Regions from separate parts of the Homo sapiens genome. Here regions 2, 3 and 4 are each linked to region 1. Evidence: fine-mapped expression QTL. A gene starts in region 1. Each other region holds a variant in brackets. All regions are shown on one strand. Distances are from middle to middle. Region 1 holds the start of PARP11-AS1 (PARP11 antisense RNA 1). Region 2 overlaps PARP11-AS1 (PARP11 antisense RNA 1). Region 3 overlaps PARP11-AS1 (PARP11 antisense RNA 1). Region 4 overlaps LOC105369608 (a long non-coding RNA gene).

Region 1 (5,707 bases):
GTTGTTGTTGTTGTTTTTGAGACGGAGTCTCGCACTGTTGTCCAGGCTGGAGTGCAGTGGCGTGATCTCGGCCCACCGCAACCTCCGTCTCCCGGGTTAAAGCGATTGTCGTGCCTCAGCCTCCCGACTGCCTTCACTGTTTTTTGAAACTTTGTGTTTTGCTTTCTAATTGGAGTAACTGGCCTTGGAACCTGTAGTCAGTCATTTGCCTCAGGTTTACCTGCCAGTCCCACCAGTCTAAAGCAAGGGAATTGGGACCCCCTTGTCTTGAATGGGCCTAAGAGGAGCCATCAGTTCTCCTTTTCCCTTCTTGGTGGACAGTCGTTTAAAACTTGGAGTATGGACTGTATGTTCTTAGATGTTTTCGTTCGGTGGACAAAGTGATCTGGAGCATTTCAACTGCAAGTCTGCCTTCTTCCTTGGCTGACTCTGGTATTTTCATTATGACTTCATGTGTCTTTGTCTACTTTGCTTTTATACATTTATTTATTTAAAGTGCAACGTAGGGGCCGAAAACTTTAGTACCTTTCCTCACCACCCATTGTAAGGATCACAGCCACCACTCCTTAAAACAGAAGATAGGTTAACAAGGTAAAAGCAGAGCAAATCTAATCAAAGTTTTACACCACCAGGCACTTCAGAGACCAGGGAGATCTCTATTTTTATGCGTAGGACCCATGAAGAATAGACAACTGTGTAAAAATGTGACTGGACAAAGGATATACTCTAATGTTAATAAACTGAGGAAGGAAGCCCAGCAAGGTCTGTTTGTTCAGATTCTTCTTGGCCTCTCTGTGTATCATTTCTTCCTCCTACGGAGGAGGAAGGTCCCTTCTGGAATGAGGGTCTTAGCGACCTACTATCAGGCAAGGTAGATTAGAGAATTTCTTTATGGCCAGTTCCTATAGACAATGGCAGGGAAAGCTTAATAGTTCCAGTTTTTATGGCTTGCTTTGTAGGAGAGGGATCCTAGTTTCTATCACTCACCTTGGGGAAGAATTCTGGTTTCTGTGACTCACTTCTGGGACGAAAGATGGGCAGGAGACAGAAGGGCAGGAGATCAGAGGGAGAGACTGCTTCCGAGGCTGCTTCTGAGGCCTTCCAATCTCTTTTAGTTCAAAGTATTCAGCATGCCAAAGTGTCATACTTCGGGGTAGTATTTTCTGAGCCCCAACACAACCCTCAGAGAGTGGGATCTATTTGCCAAGAGTATTCTTCTGTTGTTATGGTTGAAACTGCCTGGTAAGGTGGCAGATGTATGGTATTTAAAACTTAGGAGTTGACTGGAAAAATGGTAGAATCACATTTCAGCAAGTTGTTGGACTAAATACAGTCGTGCGCCTCCTAACAATGGGGATATGTTCTGAGAAGTTCATTGCTGGGTGATTTTTTTCATTGTGCCAACGTCATAGAGTGTACTTTCATAAGCCTGCTACACACCTAAGGCTATATGGAATAGCCTATTGCTCTTAACCTAGAAATCTGTACAGCATAGTATTGTACTGAATACTGTAGGCATTCGTAACACAATGGAAAGTATTTATGTATCTAAACATAGAAAAGATACAGTAAAATAAAGTGTTAACAATCTTTGGGACCACTTGTATATGCGATCCATGGTTGACTGAAAGCTTTTATGCAATGCATAATTGTGTATGAAACATAAGAAACTACTCCTATGCTGAGATAACTGCATAAATTTACTTTAATAACCCCTAATTTCCATATTTGCAATAATTTCCTATAATCAGTATTCTTCCCCTCTCATTTCTGGAATATATTTCCAGATAAGTTAGAAAGTTTATCAGTACATTTCCCTATGTTTTTAAGTTAAGTTTTTATCCAGTAGAAACTAGTCTGTTGGTCTGGATTTGGTAGTTGCACATTATGGTTCCTTCTTGTGCATCATATAACAATAGTCATCATCTTAGTATTTTCGATTCATACGTATAATACTCTCTTCAAGCTGCATTAGAGGAAAGTAATTACTTGTATTTGATTTTAGCAAAAATAATTTAGAATAATGAGAATGTGCTCTCTGCTTATATATTCAGTTTCACTATCTGTCATCAACAACCTTCATTTTGTATTTATATCTTTATGTAGCTATTATTCCCTTTTTGTTATCAGTCCTTCTTAATTTTTCCATAACAAACCCTTTAGCCACCCAAGTATATGTCTTACTCAAGGTTTTAAATCTTTCACTATATTGTAAGATCCACAAGGACAGGGGTTTTTCTCTGTTATTTTTCCTATAGTATCTTCAACTAGAGAACAGAACCTGACACATAGTAGGCACTCAATAAATATTTGTTGAATTCATGATGGTGGTTGTACCAGCAAGGACTAAAGATAATTCTTTGCTCCTACTATGAATTTTCCCTCCTGCGTCACACATACATCAGAATTTGCTGTTGGATTATTTGTGTGTTTGTGAGAATTATAAAGGCATTAATGAATGTCTTATATACTTGATTTGTTATATCATTATCTCATTTCTTTGTAAGCAATGGGTTTTCTTTGAAATCACCTGTGTGATTTTGCTAATTTCAGCAGAGCAGGCTGACTTTTGTTAAAAGTGGGGAATCCTCCACAGATCATCTCACATTCTTCTTTTGCCACCCAAATAAGACATATTTGTCTTACTGCTACTGTATTTTATTACTACTAATAGTTTTTCTTCCTATAAGCATATGAATGATATCAGTAAGCGCAATTTGGTTTTAAAAATCAACATTCTACGTGTGGGTTTCTCTAGTAATTTGTTAGTTTATTTTAGTTTCGCTTTCCTGGTTTCACTTACCACAATTTCACTTACCAGAAGTCAGCTGCGGTCTGAAAATATGAAATGGAAAATTCCAGAAATGAACAATTAATAACTTTTAAGTTGCATACTGTACTGTGTAGTGTGATAAAATCTCATGCCATTGTGCTCCATCCTGCCTGGGGCCACGAATCATCCCTTTGTCCAGCATATCCACACTGCATATACTCTACCTGCCTGCTGGTCATATAATAACATGTAATGTCACTCACTTATTTATTGAGCACCTGTTATAAGCTAGTTAGTGCGAAGTCCCAGGGTTTACAGTGGTGAACAGAACAGACTAGGCTCCAGCCTTTATGGGTTTGCAGTCTGGTGCAGGCAGGCAGATATTAAACAAATAATTATGCAAATACATTTAATTTAAATTGTGATAAAAAGATATGAAAGAAAAAGAGTACTATGACAGTGTAGGGGGAGCTAATACTAGACTGGGCAATCAGGAAAGGCCACCCTGTGAAAGTAACTTTTATAGAGATCTGAAGGATTGAGCAAGCGTTAGCCAGGTAAAGGTTGGCTGGAAGGTGGGGAGAGCTGTTCAGACAGCAGAGATAGTGTGAGCAAAGATCCTGAGAAAGAAAGGAGCTTGGTGCTTGAGAAAAAGAGAGAAGCCTATGTGGCTGGGACACAGTGCACCAGAAGACAAGCCCAGGAGGTAGGAACCAGGCCATGCATGGATTTGAGGCACATGTTTAGGATTTTGAACTTTATCCTTAGAGGAGTGGTAACACATTGAAGGAAGTGTCATGAACATATTTATGTTTTTAAAAAGATTACTCTGGCTGATGTGTGGAAAATGAGTTTATGTATTAGAAAATATGGTAGACGTAATAATGGCCTCCTAAAGATATCCACATATTAATACCCAGAATCTGTAAATATGTTGTTACATGGCAAAAGGGAGGTAATTAGCTAATCAGCTGACCTTAAGATAAAGAGATTACCTTGGATTATCCAGGGGGGCCCCAAAGTAATCGCAAGGGTCCTTAAAAGTAGAACATGGGGACAAAAGACATGGAGTGACTATGGAAGAATGGTCAAAGAGATACAACATGGCTGACTTTGGAGATGAAGGAAGGAGGTCACAAGCCAAGGTATGTGGGTAGCTTCTAGAAGCTTGAAAAACCACGGAAATAGATTCTCTCATACAACCTTTAGAAGGGAATCAAACTCACCTTGATTTTAGCCCATTGAGATGCATGTAAGATTTCTTCAGAAATGTAAGAAAATAAATTAGTGTTGTTTTTAAGCCACTGCGTTTGTGGTAATTTGTTCTAGCAGCAAAAGAAAATACTGAGGGGGATAAGGGGCTGTAGGAAGACTAATTAGGAGGTTATAGTGTAGTCCAGGGTAGAGACGAAGGTGACTTGGACTATGTGGGGAAAGTATGAAGTCACCTATGAAGGTGACTACTAAGTGGGGAGAGAGGAGATCAATTCAAGCTGCATCTTAGATGATGACTTAGCTTTCTGGCATGGGCAGCCAGGAATAAGATGTTTTCACTGAGCCATATGGAAGATAACAGGAGTTTGGTTCTGGACTCACTATGTTTAATGTGCCTATGAAGCATCAGGTAGTAAAGTTTGGAAGGCAGTTGGTTAGGGAGGTAAGTCTGGAGCTCAGAGAAGAAGGCTGGGCTGGAAATTGAAATTTGAGCCTCAGTGTCTATAGGTAGTCTGTCACCCAAGCTGGAGTGCAGTGGCATGATCTCGGCTAACTGCAACCTCTGCCTCCTGGGTTCAAGTGATTCTTGTGCCTCAGCCTCCTGAGTAGCTAGAACTACACATGTGCACCACTACACCTGGCTAATTTTTGTATTTTAGTAGAGACAGGGTTTCACTGTGTTGGCCAGGCTGGTCTTAAGCTCCTGGACTCAAGTGATCCACCCGCCTAGGCCTCCCAAAGTGGTGGGATTACAGTCGTGAACCACCGTGCCTGGCCCCCAATAAAACAGTATTTTAGAAATTAATGTTTTTATTATCATTGAGAAGGATGATTTTTTTTTTGCAGCTTCTTACAAAGTACTTATATCTAATTTGATAATAGTTTGAGATGTAGGTTAGACCACATTTTGATTACTCTGTATGTCTACTAAATTAGGAAATGTTGTGCCACAATTATAGATTGTCAGGAATTGCAACTTGTGTTTGCTGGCGCTGTCAGATGTTTAGGAATATCAAGGTCAAATACAGACTGAAAAATTATCGGAAGATTTCTCCCTGAAGATTATATCTTGTGCTCTTTCAGTTGCGTTATTGAGAAGCCTGTAATATTAGGGTGAATGTTTCAACCAGCCTGAATGTTTGGAAGATAGTAACAAATGGATTCTTAAGTCATTTTTTGACTTCTTCAGTATCTGGAAAGTATTTTCCCATGTTTTGTTTTAACATTTAGTCATGTTCTTTATACACACAATAGTGTAATCAGTCTCACTCTAAGAAGTGAAGAAAACCATCAGGTTTTGGGAAGGAATCACATCCTAGCAATTGAGCCATTTGCAACATAGCTTGGTGACTTTGAAAAATATGGTATTTTATTCTCAGCATTAAAAATCAGGGTATTTTGGCCCTGAAGTAGTAGGTTCACGCTATTTAAAATTCTAGATATATCTCTGCTATACTCCACTTAAGCAGGCCTCTAGAAAACATAGAATTACTTTTTGGTATTGTCAGCATTATGAAGAATTTTTTTGTTTTTTAAAATCTCATCCCTCATTTCAGAAACTTGTCAGCACCTTTTTTCCTTGACAGCCAGCAAACTTGCGTGGGAAGAATAATCTTGCAAACGCTGCCATTTCCTTCTGCAACATCTGAGAGCGCATACTCTGAATAGTCAATATTTGATGATGTTTAATTTCCATTATTTCCTTCAACACTCAGTTAT
Region 2 (5,292 bases), 36 kb before region 1:
GCTGGAGGAAATGAAAGCACAAGTAACTCCCACCAGAATGAAAACCTTTTTGTTTCTTCCATGTCACAGAGCCTTCATTCTGTTTCTGAGGAAGAAATAGTATCCTGAAGGATTCCAGAAAAGTTGGACAATTAGACAAATATTTTTGCTCACACAGCATGCCATTTGGTACCAAAATTACATCCTCTTTGTAAAAAAAGGAACAAAAAACGTAACCCTTCTCCTGAGATAGAATTATAATTGATAGAAAGATAGAACTGAGTTGTTATAACTGTAAAGCATTTACACATATTAGAGCTTTTTCCATCGTATTTTTACTTTGCTCGAAAGATAACGGGCCGGGTGTGGTGGCTCATGCCTGTAATCCCAGCACTTTGGGAGGCCGAGGCAGGTGGATCACGAGGTCAGGAGTTCGAGACCATCCTGCCTAACACAGTGAAACCCCGTCTCTACTAAAAATACAAAAAAATTAGCCGGGCGTGGTGGCGGGCTCCTGTAGTCCCAGCTACTCGGGAGGCTGAGGCAGGAGAATGGTGTGAACCCGGGAGACGGAGCTTGCAGTGAGCCAAGATTGCGCCACTGCACTCCAGCCTGGGCGAAAGAGCAAGACTCCCGTCTCAAAAAAAAAAAAAAAAGAAAGATAACAACTCGTGCTAACATCCTCCTCCACTCTTTTTTGAAGAATGCCATGAAATTGAGGAAGGAAATGAGACTGTCTCATGTTGCCTTAAGAGTTGTAAAAACCACACTTTTACAAAAGGTGTATTGGAGTATGTCAATTGTCTTCTGCACAGAGTTAGCTTAATGGTAGTTATATAAGGCAAACTTCAGGATAAAAATTTGTCCGCTGCCTTCTCTTTATTTCTAAGTGCAGTGGATAAATATAGCACATTCATGTTGCCCAAAGCAGACACTTAGATAAACAGCAATTGTTATGGACATAACAATATGGCAATAAACCACATGTACTATATGCTTACTTTATCTTGCACATCATATGAATCATTCATTCATTTACTCAGTACGTGTGTACTGAGTGCATACTTTGTGCCAGGCCCTTTGCTAACTTCCAAGAATATGAATATGGAAAAGACAGTGTCTGTCTTCAGGAAGCTCTCAGCCTACCTGGAGGAGATTATAAGTACTAAAATTCACAATTCGATGACATTAAGTAGTATATAGAAATAGAATATAGAGGAATACAGAGAGCACTACATAAAGGTATGTAACAATACCAGCTGCACAGAGAAGGAAGAAGTAACTTAATCTGTGGGATCTGGAGCCAACTTCCCAGTTGAAATGAGTTTTCATGAAGGTCTTGAAGATGAAAGGTGTGGCAGGAGGGCTGTTCTGGATATGAACGTGCCCCAAAGAATAAAAGCACGTGCTGTGTTCAGGAAACAGGAGGCAATTTGATGTGAGTGAAGTGCGGGGTGCCTAGCAGTGGGAGTGGGAAGCGGATCTGAATTGTGAAAGATCTTGCATGCCAGCTTAAGCTTATATTTAATTTTTAGATAAAATTATATGAAATGGACCTCCGGTCAAACGGGCTCCCCTTAATTTCACACTTCTTCACATTCCCTGTGTTCTAAGTAAAAGACCATGAAAGACAAAGTATAGACAAGGAAAAAACAAACCTAATAAAATATACCCAAACATGGCCGGGCGCGGTGGTTCACGCCTATAGTCCCAGCACTTTGGGAGGCCAAGGTGGGTGGATCATGAAGTCAGGAGTTCAAGACCAGCCTGACCAGTATGGTGAAACCCTGTCTCTACTAAAAATACAAAACTTAGCAGGGCGCAGTGGCTCACGCCTGCAGTCCCAGCACTTTGGGAGGCCGAGGCGGGGGGATCATGAGGTCAGGAGATCGAGACCATCCTGGCTAACACGGTGAAACCCCGTCTCTACTAAAAATACAAAAATTAGCTGGACGTGGTGGCGGGTGCCTGTAGTCTCAGCTACTCGGGAGTCTGAGGCAGAAGAATCACGTGAACCTGGGCAGCAGAGGTTGCAGTGAGCCGAGATCGCGCCACTGCCCTCAAGCCTGGGTGACAGAGTGATACTCTGTCTAAAATAATAATAATAATAATAATAAAAATACCCAAACTTGAAACCAAGAAGAAAGCATCTTTATGGATGACTGCAAGCATGAGGGGGGTAAAGCCGTGGGCTTGCAGGGCTCTGGACCCCAAACCAGGCAGCGATGGGAAGGAGTGTGGCTTGGATAGGATAATAGAAACTAAGTGTCTACTCAAGAAACGATAGAACCAGGCTAACTGCTGAAAGCCAGGCGTTCTCAGAAGCTGTGGAACTACAGCGATCCAAGACCCGGCCTTCTAAACAGGAACTGATTAGAAATTTAAAGCTGATATGAAGCCAGCTGATTCAAAGCCAGCTCTGTGACTGGCTCTGTAATATTCTCAATATCACTGTGGGCCAGGAGCCCCAGAAAACTATCTTGAGACTCAGCTGTGGACCAAGAGTACAGCGTGCTGGGTGAAAGCATCTGCAAAACTTCTCAACTGGGTACAAGAAAAAGCAGAACAAGTGAAACAAAACAAAATGCCTTCCATTCAAAATAAGCCTGCAGACTTTCCAAAATATATGTAGAAAATAAGCGCTAAGAAAAACAGTCAAGAAAGTCAATAGTTCACTCCAGTTGAGAATAATTTTATGAAACAGTATGTCAAGGACTTAAACGGTAAATTGAACAGTAAGACTTGAACAGTAACACTTAAGGTGACTAAAGACGTGGAAAAGGAATTAGATGCCTTAAAAGTGAACAAATATTGGGAAACAAAACAGGGAGAAATGGAACAACACAGTATATCAATTACCTTCGGCTGCATCACAAACCACCCCCACAACTTAGTCACTTAAAAAACCAACCTGCATTATTTCTTATGATTCTGTGAGTTTTCTGGACAGTTCTTCTGATGCAAGCTGGCTTGGCTGGAGCTCAGTGGTCTAGGATGGCCACACTTGCACGTCTGGGGACTTAGCTCAGATCATTCAGACAGCTAGGGTCTTTCTTTTTGTGATTCTTTAGGAGGCTAACCTAGGCTTGCTTCCGTGTGA[T/C]AGCAGGGTTTCCTGCAGCCAAAAAAGGGCAAACTCCAATGCACAAGAACTTCTCAAGCCTCTGTTGAATTATATATTTGCCAATGGCCACTGCTCAAAACAAGTCACATAGACAAGACCAGATTTGAGGCTGCAGAGGTATACCCCACTTATTGATAGTCAGAGTGTCAAAGTCACATTGCAAAGGGGCATATATGAAGGGATGGGGCAAATTTGGGGCAAACCACCACATGTAGACAGGGAAAGCAATCAACTGAAAATTTTTGAACTTAAAAATATATTCTGGAAATAAGAAAGCCAATATTTACGATAATCTCTAGACTAGGCACAGTTTAAGAGATAATTGGTAAATTGAGAGTACTGACAAATTTACCCAGATCTAGTACAAAGAGACAAAGAAATATAAAATTCAAAAGAGCAGAATAGTTATGAGCCCTGCAGGACAGACTGAGAGACTCCAACACATCTCTAATTTGAGTACCAGAGAAAGGAAAAGAGACTGGAAGAAATGAGAGAAGTCATTATTTGAAAAGATTGTAGCTTAGAATTTTCCAGAGTTAGAGAAAAATATGAGAACTCAGATCAAAAGTGCACTTTGATGCAGGTCCACATCACAATGAAACTGCAGAGCATCATTAATAAAAGGAAAAGCTGCCAGTGGGGAAAAATAGATTACTTAAAAAAGATTAACACTTAGACTGAAGTTACATCTTACATTTTTCTATGAAAAATTTAAGGTGTAATAGAATAGAAACCAAGAAGGTAATTGAACCCGAGAAGATAATGAAGCCATACCTACAAACTGCTGAGGGAAATTTCTATCTAGCTAATTCTCATTCAGCAATGAGGGATGGGCCAGGTGCTGTGGCTCTCACCTGTAATCCTAGCACTTTGGGAGGCCGAGGCGGGTGGATCACGAGGTCAGGAGTTCAAGACCAGCCTGGTCAAGATGGTGAAACCCCATTTCTACTAAAAATACAAAAATTAGGCAGGCTTGGTGGCGGGCACCTGTAATCCCAGCTACTTGGGAGGCTGAGGCAGAGAATTGCCTAAAGCCAGGAGGCGGAGGCTGCAGTGAGCTGAGATTGTGCCACTGCACTCCAGCCTGCGTGACAGAGCCAGACTCCATAAAAAAAAAAAAAAGGAATGAGGTGTGAAGTTAAAATTAAAGAAAATAGTAATAAAACAGAGGAGGGAAGACTTTAACAGATACAGAATATGTATGACCACCAAGAAGAGAATAACATTACCAAAAAAGTTTAGATTTGTTCATACAAATAAGTGTATAACTGTTAAATATTTAAAGATAGGGATAATCTTTTTTTTTTTTTTTTTGAGGTGGAGTCTCGCTCTGTCACCCAGGCTGGAGTGCAGTAGTGCAATCTCAGCTCACTGCAAGCTCCACCTCCCGGGTTCACACCATTCTCCTGCCTCAGCCTCCCGAGTAGCTGGGACTACAGGTGCCCACCACAACGCCCGGCCAATTTTTTGTATTTTTAGTAGAGACGGGGTTTCACCGTGGTCTCGATCTCCTGACCTCATGATCTGCCCGCCTTGGCCTCCCAAAGTGCTGGGATTATAGGCGTGAGCCACCGCGCCCGGCCCTAATATAGGGATAATCATTTAATGAGTAGAAGTGCACAATATAGATTTCAATCCAGGCAGAGAAAAACGTAATTATAAAAACTTTATCACTCCAAAAGCGCAGAGGAAAACAGGGAGAAAAAAGTAGCAAAGAAAAACATAATAAACAGAAAAAATAAAAGAAGATAATGTAGTCAGTCCTCCATATCCACAGCTTCCACATCTTTGGATTCAACCAACGTGAGATTAAACATTTTTTTTAGTTAAAAAGAAGAATACAGCAATAAAAATAACACAAATTTAAAACATACAGTATAGTAAATCTTTACATAGCATTTACATTGTATTAGGTATTATGAGTAATCTGGAGATGGTTTAAAGTATACAGGAGGATGTGCATGGATTACATGCAAACACTATGCCATTTTATATAAGGAACTTGAGCATCTGTGGATTCTGGCACCCACAGGGAGTCCTGGAACCAATCCCCTGTGGATACCAAGGAATGACTGTAATAACTCACAATACTTGCCAGTGGATTAAAGCCAACCACTAAAAGCAGAGATTATGAAAATGAATGAAAGAGAAAGACCCAACAATATGCAATTGAGAAGAAAGACACACAAAAC
Region 3 (5,707 bases), 28 kb before region 1:
AACAAGGCTTTTATCTCAGGTTTGTCCTCTCCCAGTTTCAGGATTGATGTCATAGTTAGAGTCTATGTGTAAAGACCTCTTCACATGACTCTATTCCAGAGGAAGTAAAAGAAGTATCTCTTTGCACATCTATTTTTTTGTTATCAAACTTTTCCCATAAACCTTTATCTCATGTCCCCCAGGATTGAGTCATGAGGCCATGCCTATGGAAGAATAGGAAAATCTCTCATATTTTCAGTCTCTAATATGGGAAGCATTCTCTGTAGATAAGAAAGGAAGTGGAGTGGGCTAGTACTGATGAGTAGGCAACCAAGAGGTCCTGCCACATCCAAATAAATGGATGGGACGACTCAATATCATTAGGTTGTCAGCTGTCCTTCAATTTTAATATATTAATCAAGTGTAATTACAATCAAAATCAAAATACTTTTTTTATGGAACTGGAAATGCTCATATTAAAATTAATGTAACAGAACAAAGGTTCAAAAACAATTTTGGAGGAAAAGAAGTGGAGGCAGCTGTCCGACTAGAGAGCAAAACATTTTATAAAGCCATGATAATTAGATGGCATGACTGTGGCACAGAAGCCACAAACTAACAGAAGACGAAAGAGAGTCCAGACACAAGCCCATACATATATGGAAATCTGAGATATGAGAGATGGCATGTTTTCACTTTTGAGATTGTGGTTCCACAAACAACAACAAAATTCATGGCTTCTTTGATGAAAATGAAAGTCTCACGCACCCTCAAAATAATGTGCTCTCCTAAAAGTGTCGAGAATTATAGTATTGCCTATATATAGCTCTGGTAAGCAAAACAAACGTATTCATGAACAAATTGCTTTGATTTTTCTTTTCAAATAATTATTGTATTGCTTCTATATGCTATAAGTCGTACTTCACTTCCTCCCAAGATTCTGAAATGTGCACCACTCTTGGATCCGCAGTCCCTCCCAAATGGGTTGGCATCTCTGTGCCAAGCAACAAGAAGCCTAAGAGGAACTCAAAACAGGGGGCTGGCATGATCGGATGTGCATTTTAGAAAGATCACTGGGCGGTGGGAGGATGGGATACAAAAGAAAAATAACATGCCCTTAAACCCTTGTCCTAAAGTGTTTAAATTGTAGCCGAAGAGACACCAAATACAGAGTGTAAAGGACAAAGAACCTTCACAGCCCATCAAAGAGTGCACTAGGAACTCACACAGAGAACAGCAGCATTGCATCCTGGGAAGTGGCAAGGAACTAGAGGTGGATGGCTGGGTTTTGTCACTCCAGCACTTTGGGCCTCAATTTTCTCAACTTTAATAGTGGGATGATGTCAATATCTACTTCCCAAAGCTGTTACAAGAATTAAACTATAAGTTCTATCTGCAAAGTGCTTTGCTGACTGTAAAAAACTACCTAGATATGAGCCAAGGCCAAGTACACAGACGTGTGTTCTAGTTCTGAGCTACAGTGCTTACTCTAGCAGTGAGATTAATGTCATTGACTTCTTTGCTCCTTACCTGACTTGGATTTCTACATGTGAGCAAGGTCAAAGGAAGGCAGTTTGATAACTCAGAAAGAATCACCAAATCTTCTGATTGGAAGGCATCTTTGAGGTTATTATTTCAGTCTCCCACTCCATGTAGGAATCCTCTCTACAAGTTCCTGACCCAGGTGGTTGTCTTATCTCCGCTTGCACCTTGCTGTCATGGAGATGTTACTCCCTCACAAAGCAGCTCAGCCTGTCTGTGGACAGTGGGCATTGTTAGAAATAGAGCTGAAATCAGACTCCCTTCAGCCTCTGTCCACTTGTCTTAGTTCAGCCCTCTGGAACAACACAAAACTAATTCACTCCCTTTCTCATTTGACAGCTTTTCAAGGGTTTGAAGACAGCTATCAGAGTTGTCTATGTGTGCCCTTCTCTGGAATAAACGTTCCCGGTTTTCTGAACTGCCCCTCTCAGGTCGTGGTTTCTAAGATGCTTCACTAGTCCAGTTATCCTCCCTGGACTGATCACTGCTTTGTCAGTATCCCCTTTTAAAATCTAGTGCCACCTTCCTGCCACCACATCTAAGTGGAAACAGCCTAAATGTCCAAGAGCAAGTCAATTCAAACAAATTATGGCATATCTACACAATAGTATGTTGTATAACTATTAAAACTGGGTTTCAAAGAATATGTAAGTTGAGGAAATAATTCAGGACATAATGTTAGTTTTTTAATGTAGAATATAAACACTACCTAACCCACATTTTTAGTACTTCCATGTGCCTCATGGAACACAAGTCTCCAGAAGAGACTTGAAGGACATATACCAAAATGATAACAGTAGTGATCTCCAAATGATGAGAGCTAATTTTCGTTTTCTTCTTCATACATTTCTGTACTTCTAAGTTTTCTACTATGAATATATTTTGCTTTCGTGATTTACAAAATACAAAGACCACAAAGTTGAATGTGAAGAAGAAACATGGTACCAGGAATAAGCCCTCATGCTCTGAGGCAGATGGGCCAATGGCACCCTCATCACCCTTGCTCTGCCTGTTACAATTCCCCTTATGCTACCTGGCAAACACTAGTTGTTTTGTAGCCATGTCAGAATTTTTTGGCTCATGTTGGGCTTTTTGTTAACTACAATCTTCAAGACTTTTTCCCATTAACTATTGTCAATAATTTGAATAACTGAGTTTTTTTTTTTTTAATCAATATGAAGAACTTGCATTTTCTCCATTAAATTCCATCATGCTTATTTTGGCTCCTTGTTCAGGCAAACCACCATATCCTGTTTCTGTCATG[C/T]GGCATATTACTTAGACTTCTTCATTTTGTGTCAACTCATATTTATATGTTGGCATCTCTTTCATGTCATTGAAAGGATTTTCACAGAACCGGGCACCAAACAAGGACTAGCGGCATCTTGTGCTACACCTCTCTCTGAGTTGACTTGGCCCCGCCTGTCCAGTGCTTTTTGGATACAATGGTTTGCCTAGCTGTGCCTTCACCAAGCCATAGATCACCCAGGCCCTATCCATTCATTGTACCATAAAATGTGTTGTCGGAAGCCCTGTTGAAAGATTCACTACCTCTGGGACAATCTTGAGAGTTTTGGTAATCTTTCAAAAAAGAAAAAAATGTGAAGTGATGTTAGTATGACATGGTTTGTTCTACATAACCTGTGCTGGCTTCTTGAGATTACCACTTCCTTTTCAAAGCGATTGTAATCTAACTCCTTAATAATGCAGCTTACAGTTTGCTGGGGATCAAAGTTAAACTCAACAGTGCAAAGTTCCCCAAACCTACATATTTCCCCTTTTGACAACTCGGACAGTTGCCCATCACTAATCTTCTGGCATCACTCCTGAGATTCCTGAAAGATTACTGACAATCATTCTATGATTAAATCTACAAATTCTTTCAGTCCCCAGGGATGGAATTTGTCAGGGCCTGGAGATCTAAGCTTATTTAGAGAGCCCAGGTATTCATTTTCTAAAGAGCTTCATAACTAGGGCTGCAATTGCTTCTTTGCAGTGTTTATATTGTTCTTTCCAGTTTGAAGATCATTCTGAGAGATAGAGATGATGGAAGCTAAGTAGGAGTTGCATAATTCTGCTTTGTATCTGTCATCTGCTAGCATTACACCATCTGCCCCAAGCACAGGATCTGGCCCTTCCCTATTCTTCCTGCTCAGAATATACTTGCACAAAGCTCTTTTTGCTGTTCCTGAGCATTTTTTGCAAGTCTCAGCTCATTCTGAGCCCCAGCCTTGCTAACACTATGGCTACAAGCCTGTGACACTCTTTGCTTTTCTTCTCCGGTGATGTGCCCTGCTTAGTGCTTTTGTAAAGGCTCTTTGAAAACCTGAGAGTGCTGGAGGGCTTCCCCTGCTGGCTCGGGGTCTTCCCTTTGCTTCCTAGTCAGGATCACTGGAGACTGTATTGCCAGAATTTAATTTTGGAAAGAATGTTGCTTTAATGCTTCTTCTGTCCTCTCATTCTTTGAAAACAAAACAACAAAACAAAACAAAATAGTACAACAACAACAACCACCACAAAAATCACAGCTGCAAATGAGGTCTGATTAGAAACCAGTACAGTGTATTTAGGCTCATCATGGTAAAAAAAAATCTGACAAATGATAAAAAGCGTTGCTTAGTTTGCTTTAAATAAGAATGTGGAGGAACTGTTTTTTCTAGTTCATTGTGCAATGAGAAAAAAGGGAGGGAGCAGAGATCCAAAAAACAAGGACAATTAATATTGAGTAGCAACTACGTTCTTTCATTTAATCTTCATGTCAGTCCTGGAAGCACTGTCCTGATTTAGAGATGGAGAAAAATGAAGCTTAAGTTAAGTGACTTAGAGTAACTTTGTAAACCAGTGGGTAGAACCAAGGGTCAAACTCAGGCAGTGTGATTGGACTGCTCATGTGCTTTTTCCTACATTACGGGTATAGGTAAGCAGCTCACAAAACCATTCCACCCAAAGATGTGTTTTTTGGACCCTATGGCATTTAAAAAAATGTTTAGATTTATTGCCGACATTTATAACTTAGGAGATTTTACGTTCACTTCTAGAATCCTAGCTACTTTTGAGAACCTCTGGCCCTACATTTCCCCCATGGAAACCATTGGCCAAGTGGAGTAGTGGCGATCTGCCCTCTCCAGGTTGCCCCAATCCCCACCTTCCCCCTCATTTATATTCCCCGCTTGGTCCTGTTAGATGTTTGAGTTTGCACTGCCTTAGGCTATGCTGATACTCCATTGTTTTTCCTGGTTTCTGAGAGAAAGCCTTCTGCCATATGGAAAAGAAGGGAGCAAAGGTTATGAAAATCAAAGATATGTCTCTTGCACTCAATTCGGCCTTATTATTCCCCTGGAAAGGGCCTCCCAGAATCTTAAGAGGTTCCGAAAAAGAGTGTGCTTGTTTCACTCAGCTTGTCCCAGGATCCTCCATTCCCAATAATGGACTCCCTTTTGCACTGTGTTTCTTAAACCACAGAGTCTAACAAGAACATCATTCAACTTTTTAAAGCCTGTATGTATGGGCAAGAGAGCCTGTTCATATGACCTTCTAAATAGGACTCTTGGGCACGATCAGAATGTCTGGCTAAGCCTGCCTTCGTGGTTAGACACCACTAACAGACCATTGAAAATATGCACGTCGTAGATCATAGAGTGGACAGAACCTAGGCTGAGGATCAGGAAATCTGTTTTTTCATCTTGGTTCTGGTGTTAGAGGGATACCCAGTGCATAGAACATCACAGAAACACAGACCTCAAGGGGTAAGTCCAGAATGGGGGCTGGTAGTTAGAATGAAGACTATAGAGGGAATCTGAATATCATTTTGAAGGGAGAGATCCATCCATTCATTCAGTCACTCTGTGAATATGTATTTATTATGCACACACTACATGTCGGACACAGTTTAGGCAATGAGAATTCAGAATTGAACCAGACAGACAAAAATCCCTGCCATCATGGAACTTACATTTCAGTAAGGAGAGATAGACAAGTGAAAAAACCAAGTAAGTAAATATCTTTGGTCAACTGGTAATAAGACTGTGGGAAAAATCAAGCAGGGTAACTGATGGTTATGAAACTTTGAGGCTGGGAGAGGGGGGTATTTAAAGAAGGTAATCAAGGCCTCTTCACAGGGAAAGTGAAATTTCAATTCAGGCCTGAAGGAAGTAAGAAAGCAAGCCATGGGGATTTTTTGAAGAAAAGC
Region 4 (5,707 bases), 81 kb before region 1:
AAAGGCATTAGAAAGCATAGTAAATAGAAACTACAAAAAGAAATGGTGGAAATAAATCCAAATATATTAGGAAACAATAAATGTAAGTGAATTAGACTCACTAGTTAAAAAATGATTGCCAGGTTCAATTTTTTTTAATAAAAAGAAAACTTGCTTATGCTGTTTTAAAAATACATACCTAAGACAAAAGGACACAACAAAAAGGCTGAAAGCAAAAGGATAAAAAGAGATATACCAGGCAAGTAAGAGTCAAAACAAAGTGTAGCTATAATAACTGTAGCAGAAAAAAAGTCTGAGGCAAAAAGTGATCATTATATAATGATGAAAGGATCAATTTATAAGAAAGATATAACAAATGCAAATTGTATTTATCTATTATAGACTTTAAAAATGTATAAGACAAAATTTGAATGAATTACAAGGAGAAAATTTTGAATCTTTATAGGAGATTTAAAAACACACCTTTCTGGTATGTTCAAATCGCATAAAAATTGGCATGAATTTACAAGATTTGAATGACACAATGAACAAGATTGATCAATCTTGTATTCAACAATTGAAGACTGTACATTTTTCTCAAATGCACAAGAAATATTTGAAAAATTAACAAGTTACTAAACCACAAAGCAAGTCTTAACAAACACCAAAAAATAAATACCATATAGTTCACCTTCTCTGATCAAAATCTAATTAAGATAGACATGAACAACAACCAAAAAAGTGACTTTAAAAGAAAACAACACCAAATGTTTAGAATTTAAAACATTTCTAATTAACTCGTGGATCACAAAAAAAAGTATAATAGCAATAAATAAATATTCAGACAGAACAAAATTTAAAATCCTACATAAAACTGGAGGAATATAAGGTACAGAGAACAGTGGTTCTGAATAGGGGGACTTTTGCTGCTCAGGGGACATTTGGCAGGTCTAGGGGCATTTTTGGTTGTCACAACTACGGGCAGCTGTTACTACCATCTAGCAGGTAAAGGCCAGAAATGCTGCCATCCCTACAGTGCATAGGACAGCCCCCTACAATAAAGAATTATCGGCCGGGCGCGGTGGCTCACGCCTGTAATCCCAGCACTTTGGGAGGCCGAGATGGGCGGATCACGAGGTCAGGAGATCGAGACCATCCCAGCTAACACGGTGAAACCCCGTGTCTACTAAAAATACAAAAAAATTAGCCAGGCGTGGGGGCGGGCGCCTGTAGTCCCAGCTACTCGGGAGGCTGAGGCAGGAGAATGGTGTGAACCCGGGAGGCGGAGCTTGCAGTGAGCCGAGATGGCGCCCCTGCACTCCAGCCTGGGCGACAGAGCCAGACTCCGTCTCAAAAAAAAAAAAAAAAAAAAAAAAAAAGAATTATCTGGCCCCAAATGGTGACGGTGCGTAGGTTAAGAAACCTTGACTTAAAGAAAAAGTTATGATCCTAAATATTATATTAGAAAAGAAGAATGATAACTATGCCGGCGAGGTTGAGGATGGATTAGAAAAGGGAGCCCGTTGGCAGAGAAAATTAGTAGGCTATTGTAATAATTAAGACAATAATGAGGACGTAGCCTAAGGCTTTGGCAACAGAAATAGAGAAAGAAAAGAGATTCAGGGTAAAATGGACAAGATTTGGAGATAAATGAGGCAGAGAAACTAGTAAAAACAGAAATGGCTCAGTAGAGACACTCCAGGGTGGGAACAAACCACATAGCTTCACAGATGCATTAGTGTGCCACGGTAGACCACGGGGGCTGGTCCTGATGGGCACCCGCAAGCAGTGCGCCCCAGGGAACAGGGCATCAATGCGGTGTGGGCTCCTGCGGAGTCCAAGAGCCTGCCCGAACTGCAGCGGTGCCCCAGAGAAAAAAATGAGGTTAAGGCCGTGTCCAGGGAGGTGGGAAGATGCAGTGACGCGGGCTCTAGAGACAGGATGCAGTGAAGAGAGGGGAGGGCATTCTTTGTGAATTCTCAGGCACGAGATCACCTGAGGTGCGGGCGTGAATGGGCTTGGTCCCCAAATCCTTGCCTGGTTTACAGGGATACGATGCAAGTCACGGAAGAAGAGTTTCCAATTACACCATGGCGGAGAAGAAAGAAAGAAAATGACACAACCACACGTACCACAGCTCAGAGTTTCAAAGACCACGTTAAGGTGTGATTCAAACAGCCATTGTGCAGCTCAAGCACGTTCCAGACTCAAGTCTGTGTAAACAGAGTTATATTTACTAGCACAAGGCCTGAAATAGAAATCCCGCAGCAAGCTCCTCTCTCATTAACGGGGTCTCTTTCACACCCTAGGGGATACCCATGAGCGGGCTGTGTCAATTGTTAGTGCCAGAAACAGTGGCTGGTTGAGAATGCCTTTTCTTTCACATTTTACAGGGAAATTCACATGGAACCAGATTCAATAGTCTCGCGACATCCTTGTTAGAAACACTTAGATTTTTCTCTTTTTGGCAGTAGCTGGTCTCCATGAGTTGATGTTTGGTGTCAGAACAGCCTCAAACAGGTGGCTGAGGGAATTTGTAGGCTCGTTTAAAATCGTGCTTAAGATACTCACAAAAGCAACTTCTCTAGGCCGCTTTGAAGGTCCTGGGACATTTCTGATCTAAAGAGGTGTTTTGTGGTTTGTTTTGTTTTGTTTTGTTTTTTTCCTATCTAGATAAAAGATAATGTTAGTCAATGCAGCTGGCACTTTTTATTCATTTGTTTCCCATCAATCTCTGTCTTTCTGAAATAGACACAGATCTTTATTTGGTGTGTCAGTGTGTGGGAGAATGGCATGCAGACACAGGATAACAGGCACAGAGACAGTGCCTGGTCTATGTTCATGTGCTGTCCTCTGTTCAGTTGTCTCTCCTGTTCAACTGTCTCTGTGAACTAACAATATGTAGAACATCCCCTAAGTAAATGGTGGTGGTGGTCGTGAGGAGAAGAGAAAGCAGAGAGAAAGACCAAGCGATGTAGGGCAAGAGAGATTAAAGATAAAGAGAGGAAGAGACAGGGAGAATGGCAGGAAGGAGAGGAATGAGTGGGGCCATTTTCCACTGCTCTTAGCCGGCAGTTTCTGGGCTTTCAGTCTGCGTGTGGACAAGACATG[T/A]CCGTGTCTCTGAGAATGGATCTACCTGGTTTCCTGGGTCTGCTCCTATTTGGGGCCTTAGGGTTATGAGGGAGGAGTGGAAGGAAAAGGCGATGGCAGCTTTAGTTTCAATGGGTGCAGAGCTGGGATGGTGGAGGGAGGCTGATATCACTGCCCGCCTGGCACTGGGCACTTTTCTTACTCTACCAAGGGTCAGGAAGGGAAATTGGTGGGACTTGTACAGACTGGCTGAAATGTTTGTGGGCTGAAGTGATTGTTAGATTTCAACTTTAAGATGTTAGCCTATTTGAAAGTTTCTTTGCCTACAAAGATGAATTTCTTAGCACTCTTCCAGGAAAAACAAAGCTGTTACAATGAAAAATTTCTCTTTTATCTTGTGGAAGAATTCTTTATGAATACCTCCCTGTATATCATAGTACCTTATGTTTATTTAAGTTATTTTCACAGCTGCAATGTCGTCTGGTTCTGTAAGGAAGTTAAAGGTATACTGTATCTCTCTTTCTAGCCCTAGGACATAGGTATGCTTCCTTCTTTCTGATGATAAGAATTATGTAATTGGTCATTTCTTATTACTTTGGTTACCAGGAAGCTCAGAACCAAATTTGTAGCACAAACATCACTTATTCTATTTGTTCCTTGTGTTGATTTTTCCCTGGGTCTGTTTTTCATTTGTTTCAAAGTATACATTGCCATTCTATTCTGAGTTTAATAAGAAATTAATTGCATTCATTTAACAAATATTTATTTGTTACCGAAACACCAGGGGTTTGGTCTAGGTCCTGCTGCTTACTGCACAGAAAGCCAATAACTGAGACGATTATTGCCAAGGAAGAAGGCTTTTGTCGGGTGCTGCAGCCAAGGAGATGGGAGCTCAGTCTCAAATCCATCTCTCTGACCAATTAAAATTAGGGGTTTTTATAGCAGGGAAGAAATGTAACAATGTGTCAGAAAACAAGAATTAGGAAGGGGTAAGGAAACAAAATGGGGGACCTGGTGTCATTGTCTTGATGTAGTTCTTTGATCTGGTGAGTTTTAGTTCTTTGATACTTTGAGAGGCCTGGGGGTCCTTTCCTGAGGAAGGAACTCAGATAAAACAAATGCAAGTTTCAAGCTTTAAGATCAGAAGGGTCCATTTTTATGTTTATCCAAAAGAACTGTCTGTGGGGCTGCTAGGTTGGTTTCATACTGATTCCCTCATTCTCTATTCTTCTCGGTTTTATTTATCTCCACATCCCTCAATACCATCTAAGTTATATCTCTTATTTATTATTTATTGTATACCCTCTCACTTCCTACCACTGTCAATAGAAATTAAGCTCCAGGGATGCTGGGTGCGGTGGCTCACACCTGTAATCCCAGCACTTTGGGAGGCCGAGGTGGGTGGATCACAGGGTCAGGAGATTGAGACTAGCCTGGCAACATGGTGAAACCCCGTCTCTACTAAAAATACAAAATTTAGCCAGGCATGGTGGTGGGCGCCTGTAGTCCCAGCTACTCAGGAGGCTGAGGCAGGGAAATCGCTTGAACCCGGGAGGCAGAGGTTGCAGTGAGCTGAGATTGCACCACTGCACTACAGCCTGGGTAACAGAGTGAGGCTCTGTCTCAAAAGAAAGAAAGAAAGAAAGAAATTAATTTAGCTCCGTGAAGGTAAGGACTCCACTGCACTCCAGCCTGGGTGACAGAGCGAGGCTCTGTCTCAAAAGGAAGGAAGGAAGGAAGGAAGGAAGGAGGGAGGGAGGGAGGGAGGGAGGGAAGGAAGGAAGGAAGGAAGGAAGGAAGGAAGGAAGGAAGGAAGGAAGGAAGGAAAGAAAGAAATGTAGCTCCGTGAAGGCAAGGACTTTTTCTCTTTTTTGTTCCATACTGTATTTCCAGAGTCTAGAGCAGAGCCTAGCATACTGCATGCAAAATACCTGTCGAGTGAAGGAATTACCTATTGTATGTCAAGTTCTGTGCTAAAAGATGGGAATCAGAGATGCAACCTGTGCAGTCTCACAGGGCCTCAAACTCAGTCCCCTCACTTAGCTTCACGCGCTGCTGTCACTATCATGAAATTCTTAATATGTTTTGAACAAGGAGCCCCACACTTCCATTTTGCACTGGGCTCAACAAATTCTGTGGCCAGTCCTAATGGAAACAGGGTTATTACTTTCAAGGAGGTTTTGATCTACTTGGAAAGGAATTATTAAAAAAGATACATATCCAGTGGCTCATGCCTGTAATCCTAGCACTTTGGGAGGCCAAGGCAGGCGGATCAGTTGAGGTCAGGAGTTCGAGACCACCCTGGCCAATGTGACAAAACACTGTCTCTACTAATACAAAAATTAGCTGGGTGTGGTGGCAGGCGCCTGTAGTCCCAGCTACTCAAGGAGACTGAAGCACGAGAATCACTTGAACCTGGGAGGCAGAAGTTGAAGTGAACTAAGTTTGTGCCATTGCTCTCCAGCTTGGACGACAGAGTGAAACTGTGTCTCAAAAAGAAAAAATATATCTATTTACCCTAAATATTTATTTTAACACAAACGATGTATATGTATGTATTTATATCTACATATCTACATGAATCTTTTGATGCAGAGCCAATGCCTTTTTCTTTGTCATCTTTCTTGTTTAAACCACA

What was found. PIP is the estimated chance that this variant, and not a neighbour inherited with it, causes the effect.
Region 2: its variant is fine-mapped to the expression of PARP11-AS1 in blood mononuclear cells (TOPMed, PIP above 0.99). The same link has a PIP of 0.9 or more in T cells, lung and whole blood.
Region 3: its variant is fine-mapped to the expression of PARP11-AS1 in whole blood (TOPMed, PIP above 0.99).
Region 4: its variant is fine-mapped to the expression of PARP11-AS1 in whole blood (TOPMed, PIP above 0.99).

The regions. Positions count from the first base shown.
Region 1 is chr12:3,867,237-3,872,943 of GRCh38, reverse strand. It overlaps PARP11-AS1 (PARP11 antisense RNA 1), which reads right to left and starts at 2,772. Exons shown (of 2, transcript NR_183432.1): 1 at 988-2,772. The region is part of intron 1 of PARP11 (poly(ADP-ribose) polymerase family member 11); the gene reads left to right.
Region 2 is chr12:3,902,980-3,908,271 of GRCh38, reverse strand. All of the region lies in intron 1 of PARP11-AS1 (PARP11 antisense RNA 1), which reads right to left. Among named protein-coding and RNA genes, the nearest start is that of PARP11, 32 kb to the right of the region's middle. The variant T/C (reference allele first, on the strand shown) is at 3,080.
Region 3 is chr12:3,894,990-3,900,696 of GRCh38, reverse strand. All of the region lies in intron 1 of PARP11-AS1 (PARP11 antisense RNA 1), which reads right to left. Among named protein-coding and RNA genes, the nearest start is that of PARP11, 24 kb to the right of the region's middle. The variant C/T (reference allele first, on the strand shown) is at 2,786.
Region 4 is chr12:3,947,983-3,953,689 of GRCh38, reverse strand. The region is part of intron 2 of LOC105369608 (a long non-coding RNA gene); the gene reads left to right. Among named protein-coding and RNA genes, the nearest start is that of LINC03141, 61 kb to the left of the region's middle. The variant T/A (reference allele first, on the strand shown) is at 3,091.